Linked DNA regions of Homo sapiens: region 2 is linked to region 1. The links come from fine-mapping of genetic effects on gene expression. Tissue or cell type: blood mononuclear cells. Region 1 holds a variant in brackets; the other region holds the start of a gene. All regions are shown on one strand. Distances are between the middles of the regions.

What was found.
Region 2: CHMP4B starts here. The variant in region 1 is fine-mapped to the expression of CHMP4B in blood mononuclear cells (TOPMed, PIP above 0.99). The same link has a PIP of 0.9 or more in monocytes and whole blood.

What each region holds. Positions count from the first base shown.
Region 1 is chr20:33,778,744-33,794,593 of GRCh38, reverse strand. It overlaps ZNF341 (zinc finger protein 341), which reads right to left. Exons shown (of 15, transcript NM_001282933.2): 11 at 13,207-13,303; 12 at 10,730-10,862; 13 at 5,620-5,731; 14 at 5,006-5,076; 15 at 2,325-3,606. The coding sequence ends at 3,077. ZNF341-AS1 (ZNF341 antisense RNA 1) reads left to right here. Exons shown (of 4, transcript NR_110623.1): 4 at 6,817-7,221. Among named protein-coding and RNA genes, the nearest start is that of ZNF341-AS1, 24 kb to the left of the region's middle. RefSeq lists enhancers at 2,157-2,451, 15,237-15,531, 15,567-15,850 and a silencer at 8,868-8,917. The variant T/C (reference allele first, on the strand shown) is at 8,874.
Region 2 is chr20:33,800,845-33,814,714 of GRCh38, reverse strand. It overlaps CHMP4B (charged multivesicular body protein 4B), which reads right to left and starts at 3,367. Exons shown (of 5, transcript NM_176812.5): 1 at 3,057-3,367. The coding sequence starts at 3,246. ZNF341-AS1 (ZNF341 antisense RNA 1) reads left to right here and starts at 3,616. Exons shown (of 4, transcript NR_110623.1): 1 at 3,616-3,675. RefSeq lists enhancers at 2,074-2,143, 1,972-2,812, 3,579-3,658, 3,398-3,692 and a silencer at 3,239-3,518.

The DNA.
Region 1 (15,850 bases):
TCTGTTAAACATTATAGCTGATCTTGGTATGTCCTTATCTGTGGCTTGGCTCTGCTACTTCCCTCCTGTGTGACTTTGGGCTGCTTAACCTTAATGTGCCTGTTGCCTCATCTCAGCTGCAAAATGGGCTTAAAAGTAGTGCCTACATTGAGGTGCTGGGGATGGTGCCAGGCATTCATTCGATAACTAATAAATGTTAGTTCTCGTGATTACCAGTAGACGTGTATGCCTGTGTGCACTGACAGGAAGAAGCTATAGAAAAACCACTTAAATAGTTATATTAGGAAGAAGATGTCATTTTTTTTTCTTTTTTTGAGATGGAGTTTCACTCTTGTCACCCAGATTGGAGTGCAATGTCACGGGATCTCAGCTCACTGCAAACTCTGCCTCCCGGGTTCAAGCGATTCTCCTGCCTCAGCCTCCCAAGTAGCTGAGATTACTGGCATGTGCCACCACGCCCAGCTAATTTTTTTGTATTATTAGTAGAGATGGGGTTTCACCATGTTGGCCAGGATAGTCTCAAACTCCTGACATCGGGTGATCCACCCGCCTCGGCCTCCCAAAGTGCTGGGATTATAGGAGTGAGCCACCACACCCGGCTGAAGATGTCGTTCTTCACATTTCTTTCAATGCCATTGTTACAACTTTTAAAAATGTTCACTGTCTCCCATGACTCCCCTTCATTATGTGGAGAATAAAGTCCAGATTCCTTAACCCACATCTAAGGCCCTCTCTGATTCATCAACCCACACTTCAATCGTGGAAAGTGGCTAAGAACCCATGGAGGCAGGCTGCCGTGGCTTGAGTCCCAGCTCTGCAGCTTTCCTGGCTGTGTGAGCTTGGGTAAGGAAGTTTACCCCTCTGGGCCTGGGTTTTCTCAGCTGTAAAATACAGAAAGTAACAGCACTCACATGACAGGCTGAGGCGACGTGACTGTAAATAGCCTGGCACAGTGTCCCTCGTGTGGAGAAGGTGAAGCAACAGCCATGATCATTATCCACCTACTCCTCTGAGACCTCTGGTCACCCTGGAACATCCGCCGGCCCCAGAACATAGCAGGCCTGGCACTGTCCCACCCCAAGGTGTTTGCACGCGCCCTGCTCTCACCCAGCACACCTTCCCCTATCCATCCACCCATCAAAGCACCCCGGGCCAAGGCCCAGCTCCAGGGGCATCCCCTCTGACTTCCTGTCCCCACCAGTCCCCCTCGGGCCTTTGTGCAGGCCGGTACACTTACACACCTCACCCCCATCAACTCTGTCCCTCCTGCCGCGTCACACCCTTCCTGAGGATGTGGGAAGCTGGGCCTGGCTCTGAGTTCCAGCCCTGAGATCCAACACAGATGCCTGAGGGACCTGCCAGCCTTCAAAACAATTCAGTCATCAAATGGAGTCCAACAGCCCAGAAGGGTGGCTGTGAAGATAAACAGGAAAACACTAGTCAAGGCCCTTTTCTCCTTCCCGCCTCCTCATGAGCCCGGTCCACCTCCCACCGGGACCAGCTGAGAGGTAGGAGGAAGCACTGGACGCGGTGACATTGATGGCCTCCAGATGCCGACACGAGAGGGATTTCTGATCTTGTTTACAACGGATTTGGAGGTGGCTAACTATCCTGAATTCCCACAAGTGAGTACAAACCCCGACCCCCATGGGGTGTTGTCCTGGACTGTTTTCTGTGGATGGGTGTTCCCAATTTCCTTTCTTTTTTTTCGTTTCTTTTCTTTTTTTTTAAATCTTTGAGACAGGGTCTTGCTCAGTTGCCCAGGCTGGAATGCAGTGGCACAATCTCAGCTCACTGCAGCCTCAACCTCCTGGGCTCAAGTGATCCTCCCACATTAGCCTCCAGCATATCTGGGACTGCAGGCACCCACCACCATGCCCAGCTAATTTTTTTTTTTTTTTTTTGAGACAGGGTCTCACTCTGTCTCCCACACTGGAGTGCAGTGGCACGATCTCAGCTCACTGCAACCTCTGTCTCCTGGGTTCAAGTGATTCTCCCGCCTCAGCCTCCCAAGTAGCTGGGAATACAGGTGTGCACCACCACACCCGGTTAATTTTTGTATTTTTACTAGAGACGAGGTTTTGCCATGTTGGCCAGACTGGTCTCAAACTCCTGATCTCAGGTGATCAGCCCACCTTGGCCTCCCAAAGTGCTGGGATTACAGGCATGAGCTGCCGTGCCCAGCCTTGCTTCCCTTATCATCTCTCCAGGGCTCCCTGTGTGAGGGGCCTGGGACCCCTCAGCCACCACAAGCTTCAGAGGGGGAGTGCTGCCACCTAGGGGCAAAGAAGGAAACTGCCACAGCTTGGCCCAGGCCACCCGGACACGTTATGACAAAAACATTTATTGAGCACTTTCTGCGTGCCGGGCACCATGCCAAGCCCCTGGCGCACTTCATCATACTGGATCCCCAGGACAACCCTATGAGGTAGTAGTATCGTAAGCCCCATTGTACAGATGAGGAACACGGGGCTCAGAGAAGTGAAGTGACTTGCCCAAGGTCACACAGCAAGTGCATGGCAACTCTTGGATTTGAAGCCAGATCTGTCTCATAGCTGCAGTCTAGCCGTGACACCTGAGTGCCTCCTAAAAGCTACATCACAGAGCTGTCTGAGGATGCTGTGGGGAACCGTCTGTGAAAAGGTGCAACACGTAAACTCCGAAGAGTTTATGGCAGGCCTCCTGAAGAACAGCAGACTAGAGGCTACCCAGAGGCAGCCTGGAGACAGAGTGGGGAGGAATGCCCTGTCTCCTCTCCCAGGGGCCCCGACCACCAGCCTAGACCAGCGGGACTCTGGGCTGCTCAGGCTTCAGCCATCTCTCTCCTGCCACCATGGCTCTGCCCAGAAACCGTGGATGGCCCTGCCCCCAACCCTAGAATGTTGCAGGGCTTTCCGGCAGGAGAGGGGCACAGGAGGGCGACCATGGGCTGAGGTTTCTGAATGACATTCAGCAGGATTTCTGCCAATGGCTCGATGGCTCGCTTCCACTGGTAAGGATCACCGGTCTGCCCCCAGGGGCCCTGGACCCAAACAGGAGCATCAGGCCTGCCCAGGAAACAGACACCTCAGGTCCGTCACTCGGAGGCCTGGATGTAGACGGGCACAGCGAGCATGGCACATGGGCCCTCGGCCCCAGCCTGCAGCTCCGCCAGAGCCAGGTTGGAGCCCAGCCCCTCAGCGTGTCCAGGTACCACCAGCTCAGTTTCCGCGCCCACCGCACCACCCACAACGATGGACAGCACCGCGTCCGGCTCTGCGAAGGGCGGCTTGCCGGGGACAGCCTCGGGCACCAGCCCAGCCCCTGTGTCCTTCAGCTCCTCCAGCCCCAGCGGGTCAGGCAAGGGGGTCAGCACCTTGCGCCCACCACTGCCGCAACTGCGGGGGGCTGCCCTCCTCTGGGGGGGCCGCCGGGTTTGCAGGTCCTTGTCCTTTTGGGGGCCGAGACGACAGCGGTGATCTTTGAGGTATTTGTGGCGGGAAAAGCCCTTGGCGCAGCCAGCACAGCGGAACTTGTAGTTGCCCGTGTGGGCGCGCTGATGCTCGGCGAGGTGGGCACGGCGGCTGAAGGACTTGCTGCACAGGGCGCATTTGTGGAGCTTCATGCCTGGAGGGCAAGGGAAAGTCAGTGAGAAGCATCCAGACCTTCACCCCGCAACAGTGCCCTGCGCTGGGAATAAAATCCAGGCTCTTTCCCCACCAGCACCTGTGTGATCTGGCCCCAGCTCTCTCCACCCTCGTCGTCTGCCTTCTTCCAGCCACTCTCTGCGCCAGCCACACTCGCTCTCCTCAGAGATGCCACGCTGGCTCCTCCCTCTGCGCCTTTGTACTTGCCATTCTCCTCTGCCTGGAACAGCTGCTCACTCTCTGCACCTTGGCTCGCTTTGCCAGGTCATCTCAGGCTCAGGGAGGGGCCGTGACGCCTGAGGCCACCCACAGGAACATGGCAGCACTAAGACTCCAACCCAGCCCTGTGTGTCCAAGTCATTGACCTACTCTCCCAGTTTTCACACTTTCTTTAGTGACTGACTCCTTTCTGTAAACCTTCTCAAACAAGGGAGACTTTACCCCCCAGAGGACTCAGCAATGCCTAGAGACATTTTTGGTTGTCACAACTGTGGGGGGATGCCACTGACACCAGTAGATAGAAGCCAGGGATACTGCTAAAAATCCTACAGGGCACAGGACAGCCCCCAGGACAAAATTATCTACAGGATTACAGGCCAGGCGCCGGTGGCTCACACCTGTAATCCCAGCACCTTGGGAGGCCAAGGCGGGCAGATCACTTGAGGTCAGGAGTTCGACACCAGCCTAGCCAACATGGTGAAAACCCCATGTCTACTAAAAATACAAAAATTAGCTGGGTGTGGTGGCAGGCACCTGTAATCCCAACTACTTGGGAAGCTGAGGCAAGAGAATCGCTTGAACCTGGGAGGCAGAGGTTGCAATGAGCCAAGATCACACCACTGCACTCCACCTGGGTGACAGAGGGAGGCTCCGTCTCAAAAAAAAAAAAAAAAAATTATCTGGCCCAAATTGTCAATGGTGCCAGGGTTGAAGAACCTTGTTTTAGACCTCGGCTGGCATGTGGAAAGCCAGCCAGGCTGCTCTGAGGAGGCGCTGAGAAACTGAGGAGTGGCTTGGAGACCCCTGCCCTGCCCTATCAAAGAAGCTTCCTGGCCATGTCTTGGACCTGGCTGGAATCTGATTCCCTCCACACCTCGTCCACACCTCTATTACACTGGGCACTGCTCCAACTGAGTCATCTCTGCTCAGGTCAGCTTCCTCCTTGGACTGGGGGACTGTGTCTGATTCATCTCTGTTCACCCTTAAGTCCCTAACACAGGCCTGGCTCATAGCCCACATAAGTGAAAGTGCTGGCTGGAATGTGCCAGGCAGGGAAAACAAGCCTCACAGGATATGTCTGCTCTTTCTCTTCCTGGCGGGTCTATCCCAGTGAACTAGAGCTGAACCAGACCCTCTTAGCAGGCCCAAGAGCCACTTACCAGAGTGGGAGAGGATGTGGGCCTTCAGCTTGTCCGGCCGGTTGAACTCCTTACTGCAGCCTGTGTGCGTCCTAAAACCCAAAGCCACTGGTCAGGGGGAGCTCACCAAGCTTAGGATCCTCTTGCTGGCCCCTCCACTAGCCCTGGGCACAAGGGACAGCCTTGTCCACCCTAAGGGCTGGGCAAGGAGGTAGGGTGGGAAGTGAGGCAGGCAGGGCCCAGGACAGGATAAAAGGAGAGAGGCCTGGCCAGGCACAGTGGCTCACGCCTGTAATCTCAGCACTTTGGGAGGCCGAGGTGGATGGATCACTTGCGGTCAGGAGCTCGAGACCAGCCTAGGCAACATGGCGAAACTCCATCTCTACTAAATCTGTAATCTCAGCTACTTGGGAAGCCGAGGCAAGAGAATCGCTTGAACCCAGAAGGCAGAGGTTGCAGTGAGACAAGATCTTACCACTGCACTCCAGCCTGGATGACAGAGTGAGACTATGTCTCCAAAAAAAAAAAAAAGGAGAGGCCTGCCCTCAGGCCTGACATCTGTCCCACCCTCCCCAGCAGCACCCCTGGAGAATCTGTCCCGCTACCCACCCCCCTGCATGGCAGTCTCTACTCACGAGAAAGGGCATTTGTATTTCTTGAAGGGCTCGTGGATCAACATGTGTCTCTTCAGTTTGTCCTTGCGGTTGAACGCAGACTCGCACACTGAGCATTTGTAGGGCTTCTCACCTGCAGCAGACACAGACAGGGAGAGCCAGCACTCACCAGGAGTCGGCATCCAGGGCACAAGGGTCCCCGCTGGGCCCCTCAGGGGAGCAGCTCCTCTAGGGAGGTGGCCAGGGGAGAAAATAGCCTCTCTCATTCTTCAGTGGCTTTGTTTTGCCAGAGACAAGACAGGGCTATTTTGACAGGATGGTCAGGAGAGGCCTCTCTGATGAGGCCATGCATGAGGAGAGACCTCAGGTCATCAGGGAGATGGTCTGGGCAGCAGGGAAAGCAGGTACAAAGGCCCTGAGGCAGGAGTGCGTTTGGCGGTGCTGATGAACAACAGGGAGGCTGGTGTGGCCAGAGAACAAGGCAGAAGGTGAGGGCAGCGAGCCAGCCAGGTCCGCATGGGAGGACCTGGGAGGCAGAGCTAAGGACTTGGCTTTTATTTATTTATTTTTTTTGAGACAGAGCCTTGCTCTGTCACCCAGGCTGGAGTGCAGTGGCAAGATTTCAGGTGAGTCACTGCAACCTCTGCCTTCTGGGTTCAAGCAATCCTCCTACCTCAGCCTCCTGAGTAGATGGGATTACAGGTGTGTGCCACCACGCCCAGCTAATTTTTGTATTTTTAGTAGAGATGGGGGGTTTCACCATGTTGGCCAGGCTGGTCTCGAACTCCTGACCTCAAGTGATCCACCTGCCTTGGCCTCCCAAAGTGCTGGGATTACAGGCATGAGCCACCGCGCCCAGCCAGGACTTTGGCTTTTACTCTGAGCCAGAAGAGAAGCACCAGAAGGTCTGAACAGCAGAGGGATGGACTCTGATGTAAGCTTTTAACCAGCTCGAATGAGGGTGGAGGTGAGGATAACCAGGAAGTGGCCCAGGACAGCCATGTTGGGAAGGCACAGTCGGCAGCCCTTGCCACTGGACTGGCTGTGACTGTGAGAGGAGGAGAGGAGTCAAGGATGAGGCACGGCCTGAGAAGCAAGGTGGCCTCATGTCATTTCTGGCAATGCGGTCCACCCTGGGGGACGAGGAATCACACCTTATCTAACTGAATCCTTCCAAAAAACCAGGAGGCACTGACTCCCATCATCCCTGTTTCACAGATAAGAAAGAAGACTGAAGTTCAGAGAGGTGAAGGGACTGGCTCAGGGGCTACCCCTATGGTTGCGGGAGCTAAGATTCCAGCCCAGCAGCGTGATCCAGAGCCCATCTGAGCTACCCAGATCTTCCTGCTGTTAAACCCGTCCTGGGGCAGCTCTTGCCTGATGGGCTACCTGAGGAACCCACAGGAAATCAAGGGAGGTGCCTGCAAAGTTGCCGTGGGGTCACAGCCTGCCCTTTGGAAGGGGCTGTTTCTGGGCTGCTGTGACTTCCTGCCATTATTTCCTCTCTGTTCTCCCTCTGGAATGAATAAAGTACTTCTGAAAAACCATCAACCCAGTCGATACGGAAATGCTGGTCCCTACAATAGAATGCTCTGTGGTCATTAAAAAGATTAAAAAGGTCAATCTGTGTTTCCTGATCTGGAAAGATCTCCTGGACATACTGCTAGTGGGGAAAGAAAGCAGTAGAACAGCTTAACACAATCTCGTCTTTCTTAGAAAAAAATATAATCCCTACTGGATATGTAAGCTCCAACAAAAAAAAAAGAAAGAAAAAATACAACCTGCACACCCCAAAAAAGCCCTGGCCATGTGTCTCTGTAAATAAACTGAAGATGCAGGAAGAAAGATGGGGAGGTGTAGGGAAAGGACAGACCAAAGTGTCAGTGGCAACTACAACTTGAAGGGGAAATTTAACATTTTACTTTATGTACTCCTATATTGTTTCCATTTTTATAATAACCATGTATTATTTGTGTGGTTTTTTTTGTTTTGTTTTGTTTCGTTTTTTGTATTTTTTTTTTTTTTTTTGAAACAGAGTCTTGCTCTGTTGCCCAGGCTGGAGTGCAGTGGTTTGATCTTGGCTCACTGCAACCTCCATCTCCTGGGTTCAGGCAATTCTCCTGCCTCAGCCTCCTGAGTAGCTGGGATCACAGGTGCGTACCACCACACCCGGCTAATTTTTGTATTTTTAGTAGAGACGGGGTTTCATCACGTTGGCCAGGCTGGTCTCAAACTCTTGACCTAGGTGCTCCACCCACCTTCACCTTCCAAAGTGCTGAGATTACAGGCATGAGCCACCGCGCCTGGCAGCATGTATTACTTTTGAATAATAATTTTTAAAAGCCATAAAGAGCAATTTGGTAATATCAAACTTACAATGCATTACTTCTTTTCCCTTCTTTATTGTGGAGAAATATACATAACAGAAAATTGACCATCTTAAGCTTCTTTTAAGTGTATAGTTCAGTGGCATAAGTACATTTGCACCATCATGCAACCATCACCATCATCTGTCTCTAGAATTTTTTCATCATCCCAAACTGAAACTCAGTATTACACATGCATTTTAACCTAGCATTTCCACTCCTAAGAATATACACTACAGATACACTTCCAAAAGCTTGCCAAGGGACCCACACAGCATTGTGTGTACAAACTAATAGCTGAAATGTAATTTAACGGTTCATACATAGGCTGGGCGTGATGGCTCATGCCTGTAATCCCAGCACTTTGGGAGGCTGGGGCGGGGGGATCACTTGAGGTCAGGAGTTCGAGACCAGCCTGGCCAACATGGTGAAACCACATATCTACTAAAAATACAAAAATTAGCTGGGCGTGATGGTGCACACCTGTAATCCCAGCTACTTGGAAGGCTAAGGCAGGAGAATTGCTTGAACTCAGGCGGCAGAGGTTGCAGTGAACCAAGATCGTGCCATTCAGTCTCAAAAAAAAAAAAAAAAAAAAAAAAGGTTCATACATAGAGAACTGGCTAAATACAAGATGAAAAATTCATTGAGGAAGACTACTCAGATGTGAAAAAGAAGGTGCTGTTGGTAACAACTTCTGGGGGGGGCCCGGGGGAGGGGGACCCACAGAATTTAGCCTCCAGGGGAACTGTAAGCACACATTCCTTGGGGAACATCGCCAAGGTATATGATAAGGAAAAAAAGGCACATAAGTTATAGTATGTGCTCATTTTTGCAAACGTAAGCAAGCGTTTTATATATGTGTAAAATAAAACTAGAAGAATGCAGACTAGACCGCTAACAGTTACC[T/C]TTGGGGAAGAGAATTAGGAGTATTTTGCAAACTGCAAACCACAAGTTACACCCTGTTGGTGGTTATTTTAAGAATTAAAAATAGGCTGGGTGTGGTGGCTTGCATCTGTAATCCCAGCACTTTGAGAGGCCAAGGTGGGTGGGTAACCTGAGGCCAGGAGTTTGAGACCATCTTGGCCAACATGGTGAAACCCCGTCTCTACTGAAAATACAGAAATTAGCCAGGCATGTGGTGGGCGCCTGTAATCCCAGCTACTCGGGAGGCTGAGGCACGAGAATGGCTTGAACCTGGGAGGCGGAGGTTGTAGTGAGATCATACCATTGCACTCCAGCCTGGGTGACAGAGTGAGACCCTGTCTCAAAATAAAAATAAAAAATAAAAAAACTAAAATTGAAAAGGACAAAATAGAAAACACTGTTTTGTAAAACTTTTGTTGCAATACATCCTATGTGTGCTTCCTGGGTTGCAATATGAAATGTATTTTTTACCATAGGTCGTAGGAAAGAAAAAAAAGGAAAAACATTGGATTGTCCATCTGAAGTGAGAGGGAGTTTATTTTTTTATATATGCTTTTGTCCCGTCAAGGATTTTCCCTCAAGTTTTCTCAATCTTTAGATCCTTTTCAATTAAAAAGCAATTAAAAAATTTAACTAATAAAAAAATCTAAAGATTAATAGAAAAGAAAATGTCAGTGTGTTTCAACTGGGGAACCAAGGAGATGGCGTTTTGTTCAGGTTTGAGTGGGAACTTACAGTGAGAGCAGTGTCCCCACCACAGGGGGCAGAGTCAAGAGTCCCTCACACAGGCTGGGTGCAGTGCCTCACGCCTGTCATCCCAGCACTTTGGGAGGCCGAGGCAGGAGGATCACCTGAGGTCAGGAGTTCGAAACCAGCCTGGCCAACATGGCAAAACCCTGTTTCTACTAAAAATACAAAAAACTAGCTGGACATGGTGGTGGGAGCCTGTAATCCCAGCTACTCAGGAGGCTGAGGCAGGAGAATCACTTGAACCCGGGAGGCAGAGGTTGCAGTGAGCCAAGATCTGCCACCGCACTCCAGCCTGGGCAACAAGAGCGAGACTTTGTCTCAAAGAAAAAAAAAAAAAGAATAAAAAGTCCCTTCCACACAACCTCCAGGGGCTCTTCTCTGCTTTAGCGGTGGTGGGAATCCCTTGTTCATGAATTAAGGCAGGTGGATCAGGGGCCAGGAAGGAGAGAGGAAGGAGGAGCAAGGGGAGAGGCAGGAGGGCTGGAGGGAGACAGACAGCGACAGAGAGGAGGGGGAGGGGGCTGGAGGGAGAGGGGAGAGGACAGGGGAGGGAGGCTGGAGGGGGCTAGAAGGAGATGGGGAGAGGGAGGGGAAGGGAGGCTAGAGGGAGATGGGAAGGAGGAGGGAGAAGGGGGCTGCAGGGAGATGGGGAAGAAGAGGGAGATGGGGAGGGTGAGGGAGATGGGGGGGAGAGAGATGGAGAGAGGGAGGGAGATGGGGGAGGGGGAAGGAGATGGGGAGAGGGAGGGAGGTGAGGAGGCGGAGGGAGGGGGGAGGGAGAGGAGTAGGGAGAGGGAGAGGGGAAAGGAAATGGGGAAGAGGAGGGAGAAGGGTGCTGGAGGGAGATGGGGAGGAGGAAGGAGATGGGGAGGAGGAGGGAGATGGGGAGGAGGAGGGAGACGGGGGCTGAGAGAGATGAGGGGAGGGACTGAGTGAGATGGGGAGGGAGATGGAGAAGTGGAGGGAAAAGGGGCTGAGGGAGACAGGGAGAAGAGCCAGATGGGGATGGGAAGAGAGAGAAAGGCATGAGGAGAGGGGGAGGGGGAGGGGAGGGGCTGGGCTGGAGTTCTCAGGGGCAGGGTACCTACCCGAGTGGATGTGAGCATGCAGTTTGAGATAATGCTCCCGCCGGAAGAACTTCTTGCACACTTGGCACTTGAACCTGCCCCCGCTGCCGTGGGTGGGCAGATGACGCCGCAGGTAGCGTTCACAAGGAAACACCTGGGAGAGAAGAGGGGCCTTCAGGTCTGACTCACCGGGCCCCCCTCCCCTGGCCATCTTCTGAACTCAAAGGTTCCTCGTTTCCAGCCCCTATAGAGACACCTTCCTTTCTGGCTATCAGGGGCCAGGACCCAGAATGTCAGACTCAGCCCTTAGAACTTCATGGCTCCCCACAAGCCCGGACAAAACATGTCTGCCCTGAGCTTTTGCCCGGATGTTCTTCCCACCCAGAGGGCCTTTCTCTCTTTACTGACAAACTCTTACACATCCTTCAAGACCCAACTCGGGCGTCACTGCTCCTGTCAAGCCTTCCCTAGCTCCCTGGTGCTATGCCTGGCAAAGCCAATTCTGCCTTTGAATGTCCACCCACACTTTTAAGTCAGCATTTAACCCACTGAATGACAGCCCTTTGCTTACACAGGAGCTCCAAGTAGGCAGAGAGGGGCTTTCACTCCCCAGCACAGAGCCTGGGTCAAATGACTGACAAGTAAAAGAATTAATGGAAAATGAGCAAATTACTAAAGAAATCTATGGAAAGGTAATTTTTTACTTTTATTTATTTTATTTTATTTTATTTGAGATGCAGTTTCGCTCATATTGTCCAGGCTGGAGTGCAATGGTGCAATCTTGGCTCACTGCAACCTCTGCCTCCCAGGTTCAAGCGATTCTCCTGCCTCAGCCTCCTGAGTAGCTGGGATTACAGGTGCCTGCCACCACTCCCGGCTAATTTTTATTTTTAGTAGAGACAGGGTTTCTCCATGTTGGTTAGGCTGGTCTCTAACTCCTGACCTCAGGTGATCCACCCGCCTCAGCCTCCCGAAGTGCTGGGATTACAGGCGCCCACCACCACACCCAGCTAATTTTTGTATGAAAGGTAATTTTTTTAAAGCCAGAAAACACAGAAGTGAAAATCTCTTTCCAGTCCAGGCAAAAGAAGGGCATGTATTCACACATTCATTCATTTTGGTAGAGCGTTGGTCACGGGCACAGACCCAGCTGCCCCACTGCTTATTAGCCCCATCGTTTCCCAGCTAGGTGACCTTTCTGCCTTGGTTTCCCCACCTATAAAGGGGGATAGTAACAGTACACCTATCCTCTAGTCAATTCCAGTGAAATGCTCAGAACAGCATCTGGCATGTGGTTCTTGCTCAATTCATGGTATCTTTTACTCGGACCACAACTTCTAAAGCTTAAAATTAGGTTAGATAATAAGAAACATCCAGAATGAGGCCAAAATGAAACCAGGGCTGTCCTGGAAAATCTGCCACATATGGTTGTAAGAAAATGAGTAGAGTGAAGAAGCAAGTTAAACACACCAGGGAGACGTAATCAGCAAAATCCAGACTGCGGGGAACACCGCTGAACCAAATGGCCCAGTTTCTTCAACAAATAAATTCAGAGGAAAGAAAAAAGGGAGCAGTGGTCAGGGGTGGTGGTGGGGACCTGTAGATTAATAGAGGCTTTTGTTATGTCAATCAATTGCAATCTATGGACCTGATTCAAATGAACTTTACAAAATGATGAAGCTTTGAGACAACTAGAAATTGGAACACTTCCTGGATGTTTGATGTTATCAGGAACAGGCTTTAGTGAGGCTTTCAGAGTCACTGAAAAGAAGAATCCAGGCTGGGCATGATGGCTCATACCTGTAATCCCAACACTCTGGGAGTCTGAGGTGGGAGGATCACTTGAGGCCAAGAGTTTGAGACCAGCCTGGGTAACATAGTGAGCCCTATCTCTACAAAAAATTTAGGCTGGGTGCAGTGGCTCATGCGTGTAATCCCAGCACTTTGGGAGGTCAAGGTGGACAGGTCCCTTAAGCCCAGGAGTTTGAGACCAGCCTGGGCAACACGGTGAAACTCCATCTCTATAAAAAATACAAAAATTAGCTGGGCATGGTGGCACATGCCTATAGTCCCAGCTACTCAGGGGGCTGAGCCCAGGAGGTTGAGGCTGCGGTGAGCCATGATCAAACCACTGCACACTAGCCTGGTGACAGAGTAAGACCCTGTCTCAAAAAAAAAAAAAAATTAAAAAGAAGAGCCAATTGTAATAAGGATAATCTTACATCAGGAAGCTGGGAGGCTTCTGCTCAGACACTAGGCCTGGGACCAGGACAGCCCACCCAGCCTGGCTCCAGCAGCAGCCCCGACATGGCCACATCTGGAATGTGATGGATGAGATGGCCAGGCAGAGACACTGTGTCATCTGTGGAGCAGCCCCTGAGCCCTGCCTGCGTGTCCTATGGTGAGAGAGGAGAAGGAAAGGGTGAGGTGTGCACCCCACCCCACCTCCTTGCCCTTATTATAGCCTAGGCCCCAGAAAAGAGGACAGTGGCACCCACCTTCTGGCAGTGTGGGCAGGGGAAGTTGTGAGTGGCGGTCTGCAGGTGGTGCTCCAGGGCCTCAGGGGTGGAGTATTTGTTGACACATTTGACACACCTAAGTGGAAGGAGCAGGAGAGATGAGGGAGGAAACACAGCAGGCATAGGAAGCAGCGCCCCGGCCACCCCAGGGCCAACATTAGGAGGCAACATCCTACAGTTAATTCATTCCAAATCCATCCACTCTTCTCAATTGCCACTGCCTGTCCTCATCTGAGCGCCATCATCTCTTGTTCGGACTTGTGCAGTAGCCTCCTCGCTGGCCACCCTGCCCCTGCCTTGCCTCCTGTAGTCCATTCTCCACAGGGTGGCCAGGGGCACCTTTAAAAATGAAACAGGCTGAGCACAGTGGCTGGCTCACACCTGCAATCCCAATACTTTAGGAGGCCAAGGTGAGAGGATTGTTTGAGACCAGGAGTTCAAAATCAGCCTGGGCAACATGGCAAGACCCCTATCCCTATGAAAAATTTAAAAATTAGCTAGATGTGGTGGCTTCCCAGCTACTCAAGAGGCTAAGGCAGGAGGATCGCTTAAGCCCAGGGGTTTTGAAGTTACAGTGAGCCATGATTATGCCACTACACTCCAGCCTGGGTAACAGAAAGAGAACCTGTCTCTATTTAAATAAGAAAAAAAAAAAAAGGCCTGGTGTGGTGACTCACACCTGTAATCCCAGTACTTCGGGAGGCCGAGGCAGGCGCATCACCTGAGGTCAGGAGTTTGAGACCAGCCTGGCCAACATGATGAAACCCCGTCTCTCTACTAAAAATACAAAAATTAGCCAGGCGTGGTAGCGTGGACCTGTAATCCCAGCTACTCAGGAGACTGAGTCAGGAGAATCACTTAAACCCAGGAGGCGGAGGTTGCAGTGAGCCGAGATCGCACCACTGCACTCCAGCCTGGGCGGCAGAGTGAGACTCTGTCTCAAAAAAGAAACAAAAAAAAAAAGTAAGTCAGACCATGCCACACCATTGCTTAACCCACCTCCCACCTTGGCCTACAAGGCCCTGTGGTCTGACCCACTCCCACCTCTCAGACCTCATCCTTCTCCTTTCTCCACCTCACTCACTCTGCTCTGGCCACCCTGGCCTCCTTGACCTACCTTGAACACACCAGGCTCATTCCCACCTCAGGGCCTTGGCACTGGCTGTTCCTGTTCCCCGGAACACTCTTCCCCAAGTCTTCCCCAGGCAGTGCCTTCTCATCCTTCATATCTCAGCTCAAATGTCACCTCCCCAAAGAGGCCCTCCTGGCCACCCTGTCTCAAGTTGCCCCCCACGATGCACTCCCAGTCACTCCCTATTACATCACTCAGTTTTATTTTCTTCTTACCACTTCTTACCTGGAATTATTTATTATTTGCTTACTTGGTTATTGTCTGTCTCCTCCACTAGCAAGTGGTCCCTGTTCCAGATACCACATCTTGCCCATTCACAAGCTGCTCCCAGCACCAGTGAGAACTTGTTACATTAAAGAGTCAGACAGATGGGGATCCAAGCCCAGCGCCTTCCCATTTCTGACCTGCTGGGCCTCCTCATTCAAAATATGGGGTGTGAGTCCCAAACAGACCTGCCTGTCACTCATTCTTACAATTGTCACATGGCTGGATGCAGTGCCTCATGCCTGTAATCCCAGCACTTTGGGAGGCTGAGGTGGGCAGATCACCTGAGGTCAGGAGTTCAAGACCAGCCTGGCCAATACGGTGAAACCCTGTCTCTACTAAAAATACAAACATTAGCCAGGCGTGGTGGCACCTGCCTGTAACCCCAGCTACTCAGGAGGCTGAGGCAGGAGAATCACTTGAACCTGGGAGATGCAGGATGCAGTGAGCTGAGATCACGCTACTGCACTCCAGCCTGGGCGACACAGTGAGACTCCATCTCAAAAAAAAAAAAAAAAAAAAGGGAGATTGTCACAGAGTCTGACATAGTTTGTATCTGTGTCCCCACCTAAATCTCATGTTGAACTATAATCCCCAGTGCTGGAGGTGAGTTCTGGTGGGAGGTGATTGGATCATGGGGGTGGATTTCTCATGAATGGTTTAGGACCATCCCCTTGGTGCAGTCCTCAGGATAGTGAGTGAGTTCTCATGAGATCTAGCTGTTTAAAAGTGTATGGCGCCTCCCTCTCTCTCTATCTGGCTCCTGCTCTGGCCATGTGACATGTCTACTTCCCCTTCTCCTCCTGCCATGAGTAAAAGCCTCCTGAGGCCTCCCCAGTGGCAGATCTGCTAGCTCAGACACTATGCTTCCTGTACAGCCTGCTGAACCGTGAGTCAAATAAGCCTCTTTTCTTATAAATTACCCAGTCTCAGGTATTTCTTTATAGCAGTGCAAGAATGGCCTAATACAGAGTCAAAAAACACAACTGTGCCAAACAGCTCATAAACATGTCCTCACAACAGCAGTCTCAGGCCACCAACCACTCTGAAGGGAGAAAAGACACCACCATCTCCCCATCATGAAAACATGTGCCAGCTAAGGAAGAAAGGGTATTATCAGACAAAAAAAGAAAAGAAAAAAGAAAACATTTGCCAGCATATTGACCTATTTACAATGAGTTATCAGTGAGGAATGTCACAGGTAGGTGAACAATTCAAAGCAAAAAC
Region 2 (13,870 bases), 21 kb before region 1:
CCACTGCACTTCGGCCTGGATGTCAGAGCAAGACCCTGTTGCTTAAAGTGAATGAATAAATAAAAATAAAGGACAGCTAAGGGCTCCTCACTACTTCCAGGTCAAGGTCCAAAGACTACAGGCCACTCTCAGTGTTATCTCCTGTCCCACCCACAGACTCCAGAGGCGACACTGTCACTGCCTCCCAAACACACCCAACTCCTTGCTGACCCACCTCACGTTCTCCTTCCTCTGCCAAGTCTTCTTTATCCTTCCCCCCAAACAGGTGCCGCCTCCTCTGCAGCCTCAGCCCATGTACACACTCATGTTTCTGCACTGTTATAATCATTTCCTGCTCTCTCACACGCACATACACTCCCACCCCACACTTCCAATTCTGAGTTCCTGAAGGGCTGACACAGTGTATTTTCATCTCTGACTCTCAAGGTCCCAGCATAGTGGCAGGTGAATAAGCAGACTAACTGAATGGTAATGTGGTAGTGTTCACCTCCCCACACTAAGACCTTCCTCCTAGAGGATGCTAAAAAGAAGGGTAGGTTACAGTAGCTCCCATCCTCTCAAGCAAACTCAGGGAGACAGCCTGCCTTCAGCAAGTCTGACAACTGAGATTGGTCCTCCACAGTTGGCTGGCGAGCTCTCCTGCAGCCCCTTGAAAGTCAATTCGATCGCCAAAACTGCAGAAACGGCTGGGTGCGATGGCTCATGCCCATAATCCCAGCACTTTGGGAGGCCGAGGCAGGCAGATCATGAGGTCAGGTGTTCAAGACCAGCCTGACCAACATGGTGAAACCCCATCTCTACTAAAAATACAAAAATTAGCCAGGCATGGTGGCGTGCACCTGTAATCCCAGCTACTCAGGAGGCTGACGCAGGAGAATCATTTGAACCCAGAAGGCAGAGGTTGCAGTGAGCTGAGATCGCACCACTGCACTCCAGCCTGGGCAACAGAGCGAGACTCCGTTTCAAAAACAAACAAACAAACAAACAAACAAAAAAACAAACTCCAGAAACTAAGCTAGCTCCAGACCAAAAGATCAGAGGAAAATGGTAAACTGACACCCTCCTCCTGCATTCCAAAATGCAGAAAGCTAAAAACACTGATTCTGATGACCATAAACAGAGGATCTGGACTGAGGGAGAGTCATCAGAGGAAAAAGCTAGAGACAGCAAAATATAACCCTGTTCCCATCTCCACAACTAAGCTGGAGTCCAAGCCACAAATGGACCACTGCAGCTGCCTCCTCACTGTTCTCCCTGCTCCCACCCGCATCCCCCACCCACTCTCCAAAGAGCAGCCAGATGATGTTTTAAAAACTCTGTCAATAAGGACACGTTCCAACAAAATACTCTCCAAAAACTTTCCATCCACTTGGAATAAAATTCAAACTCTTCACCAACAGGTTCAAAGTCCAAGCCCCGCCCCCTTTATTCCATACCACTCTCCCTCCAAGCACTACATTCTGGACACAAGGGTCTCTCTCTTCGGTTTCTTACAACCTGCTAACCTCCGAGCCTTTTCCCATGCTGCTTTCCACGCCCAGAAGGCTCCTCCCCCTTTTTTTTTTTTTTTTACAGAGCTGGTTCCTTCTCCAGACTCAGTTCAAACTTTACCTTTTCAAAGACGCCTTCCCTGACCATTCTATCCAAAGTGGCATCCCTCCCACTCCACCACTCCCTATCAGACCATCTTTTTGTGTGTTTAGTACTTATCACCCCCGGACAATATTTTCTTCATTTATTTTCCTGTTTCTGTCTTCTCTCCCATTAGGGTTGAGGCCGTGTTTTGTTCACCCCTATGAATACAGCGCATGCAGCAGGCACTAAAAAGAATTTCCAGAATATCTGTTGACTATCAGCAGAGAAGCATCCTCCAGATAGGCTATTTTGTTCTCCTATTAGAATGGAGAAAACATCGATTTAGCCCCTACTATGTGCTGAGCACTGTAAATCCATGATTTTCCTTTCAGAAAGGTAAATGAGCTCAAGGTCGCACTGCTAGTCACTAGCAGACTTCTGAGTGAATTACCTCAATCCTAAACCCCTCTCAAGGGGAAGGGATGTCGTTCTGTGATTCACTCTCACATGGCCATAACAAGAAAAAGCAAACATTTCTAAACTGCTTTACAGTTTTAAAGCATTTTCACATTCATCTCACTTAAGAAAAACACAAAGCACTTGGAATGCCCAGAAAGCCATACGACAACAGGAAGTAAAGTAAGCAGTGCCTCAAGATTCAATACTGGGGCCCTGAATCCTAGTAGTGGGGACTGGGGAGCAGTCGGGAGTCTCTATTTCTGGTTCAGACGGATGGGGAAGCGGTGAGTCATGGGGTGAAGGCTTGCGCCACGGGAAACTTTGGTAAGGTCAAGCTACGAGGCAACAAAAAGTGAATCACAACGCTGGAAAACACCTTAGGCCTCAACAGAGGCCGAACTCTGGCTGACGGATGGGGAAACTGAGGCCTCAAAGGGAAAGCAACTTGCTCAAGTTCACTCAGCAAGTGAATAGAGCAGGAATCGGGGGTCTCATCTCCCCCAGTCCCCTTTTCTCTCCAGCAAGGAGGCTTTTCAACGAGAATTCTGAGACAAGAGGACAGGGGAGAGGCCAAGGGGCAGCTCACAGATTCCACCGAGGAGTCGGGAGAGGGCACAGGTAGGACCAGGAAGCACAGAAATGCTAGGATGGGGGCAGAAATGAGCCGAGGAGGAGGCAGGGGCAGTAGCTAGGCAGGTGGGTGAGGCGAGAAGGAAAAGGCGGAAGAGAAAGGGACAGAGTGAGGGCGGAGGAAAGTGCTGTGAGATTGGGGTCTGAAGGGACCTGGCGGGGTGGAGAGAGGCTGAGGGGAGAGGGCAGAATAAGTCTGACGATGGAAAAGTCCAGGGATCGGGGAGACATTGAAGGGAGTCGGGGAGGGGGTCCCAGACCCGGCAAGAAGTCTGACCCGGAGAGTTCCAGGGTCAGACCAGACCCCGAGGCGAGTCTGATGAAGGTGAAGTCCGGGCCCGGGGAGCCTGGGGGGAGCCCGTGGCAAGTCTGAAGGGGCCGGGCAGCCTCACCGCGCTTGTTTTTGGTGCCGTGCTTCTTGGCGGCCGTCAGCTCCTGCTCGATTTTCTTCTCCAGGAACTCCTGTTTCTTGCTTAACATCTCTTCCGTGTCCCGCAGCCGCTGGATGGCCTCCTGGGGGGTCGGGCCGCCCTTGCCGGCCTTACCCCCTCCAGCCCCGAACAGCTTCCCGAACACCGACATGGTTGCTGCTCGCCGCGCCGGCCTTCGCCGCCCGCTCCGGCTCGGCTCGGCTCGGCTCGGCTCGGGTCGGCTCCGGCGCCCGCTCCCAGTCCCGCCGCTCCCTGCCGCCGCAGGCCTCTCCTCCGCCTCCGCCTCCGCCCCGCAGCTGGGCCCGGCCGCGCCACCTCCCACAGGCCCCCACGCCCGGCCCGGCAGGCGTCAGGGCAACGCGCCACTGACTACAACTCCCAGTGGGCAACGCGCCGGCCGCGCCTCAAATCTAATAGGGGGAAGCGTGCTGCATGCCGGGAAGCTATAGTCTTCCGGCTTCAGGCGCTCCCCGGCGCGTCTTTTGCTGTAGCTGGGGTCAAAGGGCGTGTGGCATTCTGGGAAATGTAGTCTCCTTGGCCTGCGCTCTGTAGGAGTGGCAGAACAGTAAGAGAAATGACAGTAAGTGTGCAACACTGCTCAAAAATTTATTGCTAGTATGGGATACTGCCATGCTTGAACTTCACATGTATATTCATGTGAAGTTGTCTTAAAAGCGTGAAGGCAACAGTTGTTTCCAATTTCAACCTGTCAATTCTGTGGTCACAGAAGCAAAGCAGTATCTTCTCCAGTTAAGTACGGTAGTGTCCCCCTTATCTGAGATTTTACTTTGAGTAGTTTCACTTGGCCAGCTAAGGTCTGACAGTATTAAATAGAAAATTCCAGAAATAAACAGTTCATAAGTTTTTAATTTCCATTGGCCTAATGAAATCTCGTGCTATCCTGTTCCATCCTACCTGCAATGTGAATCATCCCTTTGTCCAACATACCTCTACCATCTGTTAGTTACTTACCAGCTTAGGAGTTATCAGATGGACTGCCACGGTGTTGCAGTGCTTTGGTTCGAGTAACCCTCATTTTACTATATAATGGCCCCAAAGTGCAAGAGTAGTAATGCTGGCAGTTTGGATATGCCAAAATGAAGCTGTAAAGTGCTTCCTTTAAATGTAAATGTGGAAGTTCTGAGCTTAAGAAAAAAAATCGTATGCTGAGCTTACTGAGGTCTGCAGTAAGAACGAATCTTCTAGCCCTAGAATTGTGAAAGAGGAAAAAGAAATTCATGCTGGTTTTGCTGTCGTACCTCAAACTGCAAAAGTTACAGCCACAGTGTGTGATAAGTGCTTAGTTAAGATAGAAAAGGCATTAAGTTGTATCCTTACTTACAGGGGAAAAAAAGAAAATAAATTTTTTTACAAAAGAAAAGAAAAAGCATTAAGCTTATACGTGGAAGACACGAACAAAAAATGTGTTCCAACTGACAGCAACCTGTTACCCCCCAGAAAGCATTGAGCCTGTATAAAGGCTTCAGCAAGGAATCTCCTAAAACCAGTGGCACCAAGCCACTTACTGAAAGTAATGGATGGTTGCACTGACTTAGGAATAGGTTTAGACTGCAAAATATAAAAATTACTGGATGGGCTGGGCACAGTGGCTCACACCTGTAATCTCAGCACTCTGGCAGGCCTAGGCGGATGGATCACCTGAGGTCAGGAGTTTGAGACCAGCCTGGCCAACGTGGTGAAACCCCATCTCTACTAAAAATAAAAAATAAAAATAAAAAAATTAGCTGGGCGTGGTGGCGCACGCCTGTAATCCCAGCTACTTGGGAGGCTGAGGCAGGAGAATCACTTGAACCTGAGAGGCAGAGGTTGCAGTAAACTGAAATCGTGCTATTGCACTCCAGCCTGGGCGAAAAGAGCAAAATTCTGTCTCAAAAAGAAAAAAAAAATTACTGGAGCCGGGCGCGGTGGCTCACGCCTGTAATCCCAGCACTTTGGGAGGCCAAGGCGGGCGGATCACGAGGTCAGGAGATCGAGACCATCCTGGCTAACAAGGTGAAACCCCGTCTCTACTAAAAATACAAAAAATTAGCCTGGCATGGTGGCGGCGGGTGCCTGTAGTCCCAGCTACTCTGGAGGCTGAGGCAGGAGAATGGCGTGAACCCAGGAGGCAGAGCTTGCAGTGAGCCGAGATTGCGCCACTGCACTCCAGCCTGGGCGACAGAGAGAGACTCCGTGTCAAAAAAAAAAAAAAAAAAAAGGCCGGGCGCGGTGGCTCATGCCTGTAATCCCAGGACTTTGGGAGGCCGAGGCGGGCGGATCACGAGGTCAGGAGATCAAGATCATCCTGGCTAACACGGTGAAACTCCATCTCTACTAAAAATACAAAAAAATTAGCCAGGCATGGTGGCACGCGCCTGTAGTCCCAGCTACTCAGGAGGCTGAGGCAGGAGAATGGCGTGAACCCGGGAGGCAGAGCTGGCAGTGAGCCGAGATGGCACCACTGCACTCCAGCCTGGGCAACAGAGCGAGGCTCCGTGTCAAAAAAAAAAAAAAAAGTTACTGGAGGTTGGGTGCGGTGACTCACGCCTGTAATTCCAGCATTTTGGGAGACCAAGGCAGGTGGATCGCTTGAGCCCAGGAGTTGAGGCCAGCCTGGGCAACATGGCGAAACCCCATCCCTACAAAAAATACAAAATTTAGCTGGGCATGATGGCACAGGCCTATAGTCCCAGCTGCTCAGGAGACTGAGCCATGAAGATCATCTGAGCCTGGGAGTTTGAAACTGCAGTGAGCTGTGATCTCACCACTGCACTCGAGCCTGGGTGACAGAGTGAGACCCTGTCACAAATAAATAAATAAATATTACTGGAGAGGCTACAGCAAGACAAGTTGGTGGAGAAGGATTTGGGGACATGCTTGATGAAGAAGTGGAAGATCATATTGAAGGCCACTGGGAAGTGTTAACAAATGTGGAATTGGAAGAACTTGTCAAGTCATCTACAAAGAAAGAGGAAAATGAAGGAGAAACAGAAACAGAACCAGCAATATGGGTGTTATCAAAATTTGCCGAGTGTTTCAAATTGCACAGACATTAAAGGACAAAATTATGGAATTCAATCCTCAGATAGAACACAGCATTAAAACCACTCGTGTGGTCACCAAAGGATTACAACTTCTGCAGCCACACTTCTATGAATTAAAAAGAAAGAGGCCAGGCATAGTGGCTAACACCTGTAATCCTAGGACTTTGGGAGGCCGAGGTGGGCAGATCACTTGAGGCCCGGAGTTTGAGACCAGCCCGGCCATCGTGGTGAAATCCTGTCTCTACTAAAAATACAAAAATTCACCAGGCATGGTGGCGTGCACCTGTAATCCTAGCTACTTGGGAGGCTAAGGCAGAAGAATTGCTTGAACCCAAGAGGCAGAGGTTGCAGTGAGCCGAGATTGCGCCACTGCACTCCAGCCTGGGCGACAGAGACTCTGTCTCAAAAAAAAAAAAAAAAAAAAGAATTAAATAGAAAGAGATGGCCAGGTGCAGCGGCTCACGCTTGTAATCTCAGCACTTTGGGATGCTGAGGTAGGCGGGTCACTCGAGCTCACAGGTTTGAGACCAGCCTGGGCAACATGGTGAAACCTCATCTCTACAAAAAATGCAAAAAACTAGCTGGGTGTGGTGGCGCACACCTGCAGTCCCAGCTACTCAGGAGGCTGAGGTGGGAGGATCACCTGAGCCCAGGAGGTTGAGGCTGCAGTGAGCCATGATCACACCACTGCACTGAAACCTGGGCAACAGACTGAGATGCTATCTCAGAAAAAGAAAGAAAGAGACAACTTCCAGTAATAATGTTCTTCCAAAAGTTTTTGGCAAAAACGCAATTATCCAAGGACCCCCAATCATTGGTTGACATCGTCTGATCCTGATATCCAACCACTGACATCGTCATAGCTCAATGATCCAGGATCACCCAAAGCAGATGGTCCTCCTGACATCTCAGATGGTCAGTAGTAGCCTAACACTACCTCATAATGCCTGTGTCATTCACCTTACTTCATCTCATCACATAGGGATTTTGACATCACGCATAATCTCAAGAAGAAGGGTGAATACAGTACAGTAAGACATTTTGAGAGAGAGACCACATTCACAAAACTGAATACAGTATATTGTTATAATTGTCCCATTTTATTAATAGTTGTTATTAATCTCTTACTGTGCCTAATTTATAAATTAAACTTTATCATAGATGTATATATATAGAAAAAACACAGTATATATAAAGTTCAGTACTATTTATGTTTTCAGGCATCCACTTGCAGGTACACCTGAGGATAAAGGAGAACTATTGTATTTGAAAAACAACAATAATTAACATTGATGCACATTCTGTGATTGCACCATCGATGCACATTCTGGCATTGTGCAAAGTGCTGTACATATAATATCACATTTGGCCGGGGGCAGTGGCTCACGCCTGTAATCCCAGCACTTTGGGAGGCCAAGGCAGATGGATCATGAGGTCAGGAGTTCGAGACCAGCCTGGCCAACATGGTGAAACCCCGTCTCTACTAAAAATACAAAAATTAGCCAGGCATGGTGGTACGTGCCTGTAATCCCAGTGACTTGGGAGGCTGAGGCAGGAGAATCACTTGAACCCCAGAGGCAGAGTTTGCAGTGAGCTGAGATTGCGCCACTGCACTCCAGCCTGGGTGACAGAGCAAGACTTGGTCTCCAAAAAAAAAGAAAAAAAAACACATTTAATTATCATAAGCAGCCTAGGACAGATAATACTGTTCCTATTTTATAGGGGAGTAAACCAAGATTCAGAGAAATCAAGTGACTGACTGACTAGACCTGTCTTTGCAAATGTTCTTCCCTCTACCTGGAATGCCTTTCTACTCTTCATTCACCTAACAGATCCTTTGAAACCTAGCAGAAGCTAAGGGCCTTGGCACTGAACTTTGATAGCAAAGGTTCAAAACCCAGCCTTGACTACTTACTTGGGCAAGTTATTTCCCCTACTTTCTGTGCCTCCCTTCCTGCAAGTATAAACTGGAGATGATCGTAACAGGACCACCTGAAGCTTATGTGAGATATAGAATGTAAAGTACTTGCTGAGCATAGACTTGGCACCTAGCGGATGCTCAAAAATGTGTATTTTATTCTTAGGTATTCTGTCATCTTTATAGGCAATAAGAATTGAACCAGACTCAGAACTTTCAAAAGTGGCAGAAGCGTTGAGGACTTTTTTGCCTCTGCAATAAACAGACGCAGCTAATTGTGGTACCACATTTCATTGTTTTTCCATTGTCTTTGGTGTCAAGCATCACTTCTCTAGACTCTTAGTGGTGGATAAAAAGGGGGAAAAAATCACTTCTCCATCCATTAGCAGTGAGGCTGCTGTTAGTAGCCAGTAGTTGCCCCAAGCCTACCATTCTAATTTGCTGCTTCCAATCTTTTGCATGTGTTAACCTTGCATGAAAACAAAGAATAGCCGGCGCGGTGGCTCACGCCTGTAATCCCAGCACTTTGGGAGGCCGAGATGGGCGGATCACGAGGTCAGGAGATCGAGACCGTCCTGGCTAACACAGTGAAACCCCGTCTCTACTAAAAATACAAAAAAATTAGCCGGGCGTGGTTGCAGGCTCCTGTAGTCCCAGCTACTCGGGAGGCTGAGGCAGGAGAATGGCCTGAACCCAGGAGGCGGAGCTTGCAGTGAGCCGAGATCTCGCCACCGCACTACAGCCTGGGTGACAGAGCGAGACTCCGTCTCAAAAAAAAAACAAAAACAAAAACAAAGAATAAACCAATTCTAAATGAGGAGCTGAAATGCTCTCCCATGAAGAAAAATACAGCTTCTCAAAGGTATTTTTTATTCCTTCCTGTACTTTTCAAATATGTGAAGTTGCTCAGGATCAGAGTTTCAAATAAATGAGAGCTTAGCTGGACTTTTCCTCTATTAGTTTATATGTGAGTCTTATCTCCTCCCTCAGACTATGATTTACATTTGGACAAAAGCCATGAGTTGGATGTTGTTGTTGTTTTAATCAGCCACAACCTCCAACCCTGCACATACAGGCAGCCATTCCCAGAGGATGGTAGAGTTCATTTCACCCAATTTTGTGGTTGGAATAAGTTTTTCAAATGTGAGAGACATGCTAGAACTGTCAAGAATTCACAGGAGTATTGTTAAACATTAAGTCACATTTGTGTTTGTTCCGTAATTGAGACACTGCAATGTTTTAGCAAAGTAAAAGAGAAAAACAAAGAGGCTTCAGTCAAGCCACCTCATGGGTGCAGCAGCCCCTCCACATCTAAGCAGTCTGCCTCATCACCTCTTATCTAAGTCAAGTTGCTCCCAGGTACATAGGTAGCAAAACACTTGCTGGGTTGGAGCCATTACCCAAAGGATATATGAACAGGAAGATGCTGTGGACCTCACCACCATCAGTTTCATACAGCTGTGTGGTAAACTGAGGGTGATAACAGAGCCCCTCATGTTCTAACTCTGGGAGCCCAGAAAAATATCTTGGGGATATGACAGCAGAAGCCTCAGATTTAATCTTGAGTACTGTATTAGTCTGTTTTCATGCTTCTGATAAAGGCATACCCAAGACTGGGCAATCTACAAAAAGAAAGAGGTTTAATTGGACTTATAGTTCCATATGGCAGGGGAAGCCTCACAATCATGGCAGAAGTCAAGGAAGAGTAAGTCCCGTCTTACATGGATAGCAACGGGCAAAGAGAGAATGAGAGCCAAGAGAAAGGGGTTTCTCCTTATAAAACCACCAGATCTCATGACACTTATTCACTACCACAAGAACAGTATGGGAGAAACCGCTGCCATGATTTAATTATCTCGTACCAGGTCCCTCCCACAACAATGGGAATTATGGGAGATATAATTCAAGATGAGATTTGAGTGGGGACACAGCCAAACTATATCAAGTACCAACTACAAGCAATTAGTGTTGGCCACCTGGACCGCTGGGTTGAAAAGAATTTTGAGGCTGCATCAGAAGTTCTTGTAAAAAAAAGTGCCAAGATTGGCCCGGCATGGCGACTCACACCTGTAATCTCAGCACTTTGGGAGGCCAAGATGGGAAGATTGCTTGAACCCAGGAGTTTGAGACCAGCCTGGGCGACATAGGGACACTCAGTCTCAAGAAATAATTAAAAATTACCTGGGCATGGTGGCACACACCTATGGTCCCAGTTATTCGAGAGGCTGAGGCAGGAGGATCACTTGAGCCCAGGAGGTTGAGGCTGCAGTGAGCTGTGAACATGCAACTGCCCTCCAGCCTGAGTGACAGAGTGAGACACTGTCTCAAAAAAAGAAAAAAAAGTGCTCAAGATGGATTTGTGATGTCTACCCAGGGTATGGGATGGGAAGTGGTGACACATGGGCAAAGTAGCTGCCATCCTGGCTGAGAATTCAGCTGCCATAAATAGAGATTCACAGAGTGGACTGGCTCAATACTGGAGAGCCCTGGGCTTTGCTGGCCTGTATTTTTCTGGTCTCTCAGACAAATGCACAGCCTTTTCAAACTTTGACCAACTCGTATTAACTTATTCAAAACTGTGTGAAAAAGAATGAGCCACTGATACATGCAAGAATTTGGATGACTCACAGATATTATGCTGAGTGAAAGAAACCAGATACAAAAGCTTGTATGACTCCATATATACGAAGCTCAAAAACAGGCAAAACTAATCCATGGTGTTAGGAATCAGAATAATGGTTACCTCCAGGGAGGTACAGACCAGGAAGAGGACCCTTACAAGGTGCTAACAGGTTCAATAGCAGGATCCAGAGGTGTTCACATGGCTGTATACAAATTAATCAGTTTTTATACTTAAGACGATTGCCCTTTATGTATCTTATGTACTTTATTAAACATGTTATATTACAATTTAAAACAACATCTCCAGGCTGGGCATGGTGGCTCATGCCTGTAATCCTAGCACTTTGAGAGGCCGAGGTGGATGGATCACTTGAGCTCAGGAGTTCGAGACCAGCCTGGCCAACATGGTGAAACCCCAAGTCTACTTAAAAAATGCGAAAATGAGCCAAGCATGGTGGTGCACACCTGTAATCCCAGCCACTCAGGAGGCTGAGGCAGGAGAATCACTTGAACCCAGGAAGTGGAGGTTGCAGTGAGCCGAGATCATGCCACTGCACTCCAGCCGGGGCGACATAGCAAGACTCCATCTCAAAAATAAGTAAATAAGTAAATAAATAAATAAATAAATAAATAACATCTCTAGCTGGGCATGGCAGCTCATGCCTGTAATCTCAGCACTTTGGGAAACCAAGGTGGGAGGATTGCTTGAGGCCACAGTTCAACACCATCCTGGGCAACATAGTGAGATCTCTTCTCTAGAAAAAAATTTAAAAATTAGCCAGGCATGGTGGTGCAAGCCTGTAGTCTGGGCTACTTGGGAAGCTGAGGTGGAAAAATTGCTTGGGCCCAGGAGTTCAAAGCTACAGTGAGCTATGATGACGCCAATGCACTCCAGCCTGGGCAACAGAGGGAGACCCTGTCTCAAAAAAGAAACGAACAACAACAACAAAAATACACACACAAAGTATCTCTAATAAGAGCAGCAACAGAAGAATAGTTTTTATTTGCAAAGTGCCTTTGCACACAAAAATCCCATCTTATCTCCATCATCCCTCTAAGCCCCATGAAGTAAGCATTACTATCCACCTCCATTTTACAGTTGAGGAAACTGAGGCCCAAAGAAGTAGGAATTGACTAAAGTCACATGGTTAAAGATACCCAGCCATATATTTGTAACCTTCTTTGAAAACATTAATTATGAAATGAGGCCGGGCACGGTGGCTCACGCCTGTAATCCCAGCACTTTGGGAGGCCGAGATGGGCGGATCACCTGACGACAGGAGTTTGAGACCAGCCTCAACATGGAGAAACCCCATCTCTACTAAAAATACAAAATTAGCCAGGCGTGGTGGTGCATGCCTGTAATCCCAGCTACTCGGGAGGCTGAGGCAGGAGAATTGCTTGAACCTGGGAGGCGGAGGTTGCGGTGAGCCGAGATCACACCATCACACTCCAGTCTGGGCAACAAGAGTGAAACTCTGTCCCAAAAAATCAAAAAAATTATGAAATAAAACCTTAATTATGAAACTTGGTCTCACATAATTATACCAAATTAAATACAGAGGACTTCGCTGATTTTTAGTTGTAAAAAAGAGTTCATCCAACATTCTCTCCTGATTAAACAAAAAACAAACAAACAAAAAAACAAAACCTGAAACACTCAGCCAACTAGGAAGAGGAGAGAACTTCTCAACCTGGTAAAAGGCATCTGTGCAAAACCCACAGCTAACATCACACTTAATGGTGAAGACAAAGGCCGAAAGCTTTCCCCCTAAGATCAGGAATAAGATAAGGATGCCTACTCTCATCACTTCCAATCAACATTGTACTGAAAGTTCTTGCCAGGGCAATTAAGCAAGAAAAATAAATAAAAGGCATCCAGATTGGAAAAGCAGAGGTAAAACTATTTCTATTTGTAGATGACATGATCTCATATAGAGAAAAACCTAAAGAATACACAGAAAGCTATTAGAACTAAAATGAGTTCAGCAAAGTTCAACAATATCAACACACAAAAATCAGTTGTATTTCTGTACATTAGCAACGAGCAATATGAAAATGATATTAAGAATCATTTCCATTTACAATAGCATCAAAAATAATAAAACATTTAGCAATAAATTTAACCACGGAAAGGAAAGGCTTGTCCTCTGAAAAGTACCAAACCTTGTTGAAAGAAATCAAGGAAGACATAAATAAATGGAAACACATTCCATGTCCATGGATTAGAAGACTTAATTGTTAAGACAGCAACACTCTCCAAATTGCTCAACAGATTCAATACAAGTCTTTCAAAATCTGAGCTGCATTTTTTGCAGAAATGGACAAGTTTATCCCACACCTCATATGGAATCGCAAGAGACCCTGAATAGTCAAAACAATATTCAAAAAGAAAAATAAAGTTGAAAGATTCGCATGTCCTGATTTCAAAACTTACTGCAAAGCTACAATAAAGAAGTTTATCGATCAATTGAATAGAGTCAAGAGTACAAAAATAAACCTATACATCTATAGTCAATTGATTTTCAACAAGTGTGCTAAGACCATTAAATGGGGGAAGCATAGTCTTTTCAACAAATGGTGCTAAGACAGCTGGGTATCCAAATGCAAAGGAATGAGGCCAGGCCCTGTGGCTCATGCCTGTAATCCCAGCACGTTGGGAGGCCAAGGCAGGAGGATCGCAGGAGCCCAGGAGTTCAAGACCAGCCTAGGTAACATAGTGACACCCCAGCTATACAAAATAATAATAATAATAAATAAAATTAGCCGGGCATGGTGGTGTGTGCCTGTAGTCTCAGTTACTCAGGAGGCTAAGGTGGAAGGATCACTTGAGCCCAGGAGTTCGAGGCTGCAGTGAGCTGTGATTTCATCACTCTACTCCAGCCTGGGTGACAAAGTGAGACCCTGTCACCCAGGCTGACCCTATATGAAATGTCCAAAATAGTCAAATCCATAGAGATAGAAAGCAGATTAGTGGTTGCCAGGGTCCAGAGAGGGGGAAAAAGGAGAATGACTGCTTAATGGGTACAGGGTTTCTTTTTGGGATGACGAAAATGTTATGTAACTAGATTGTGGCGATGGTTACACAATATTGTGAATGTAATAAAAAAGAGCTGCATTGTATACTTTAGTTAAAATGGTGAGGTTTTTTTTTTTTTTTTTTTGGTAGATGGAGTCTCACTCTGTTGCCC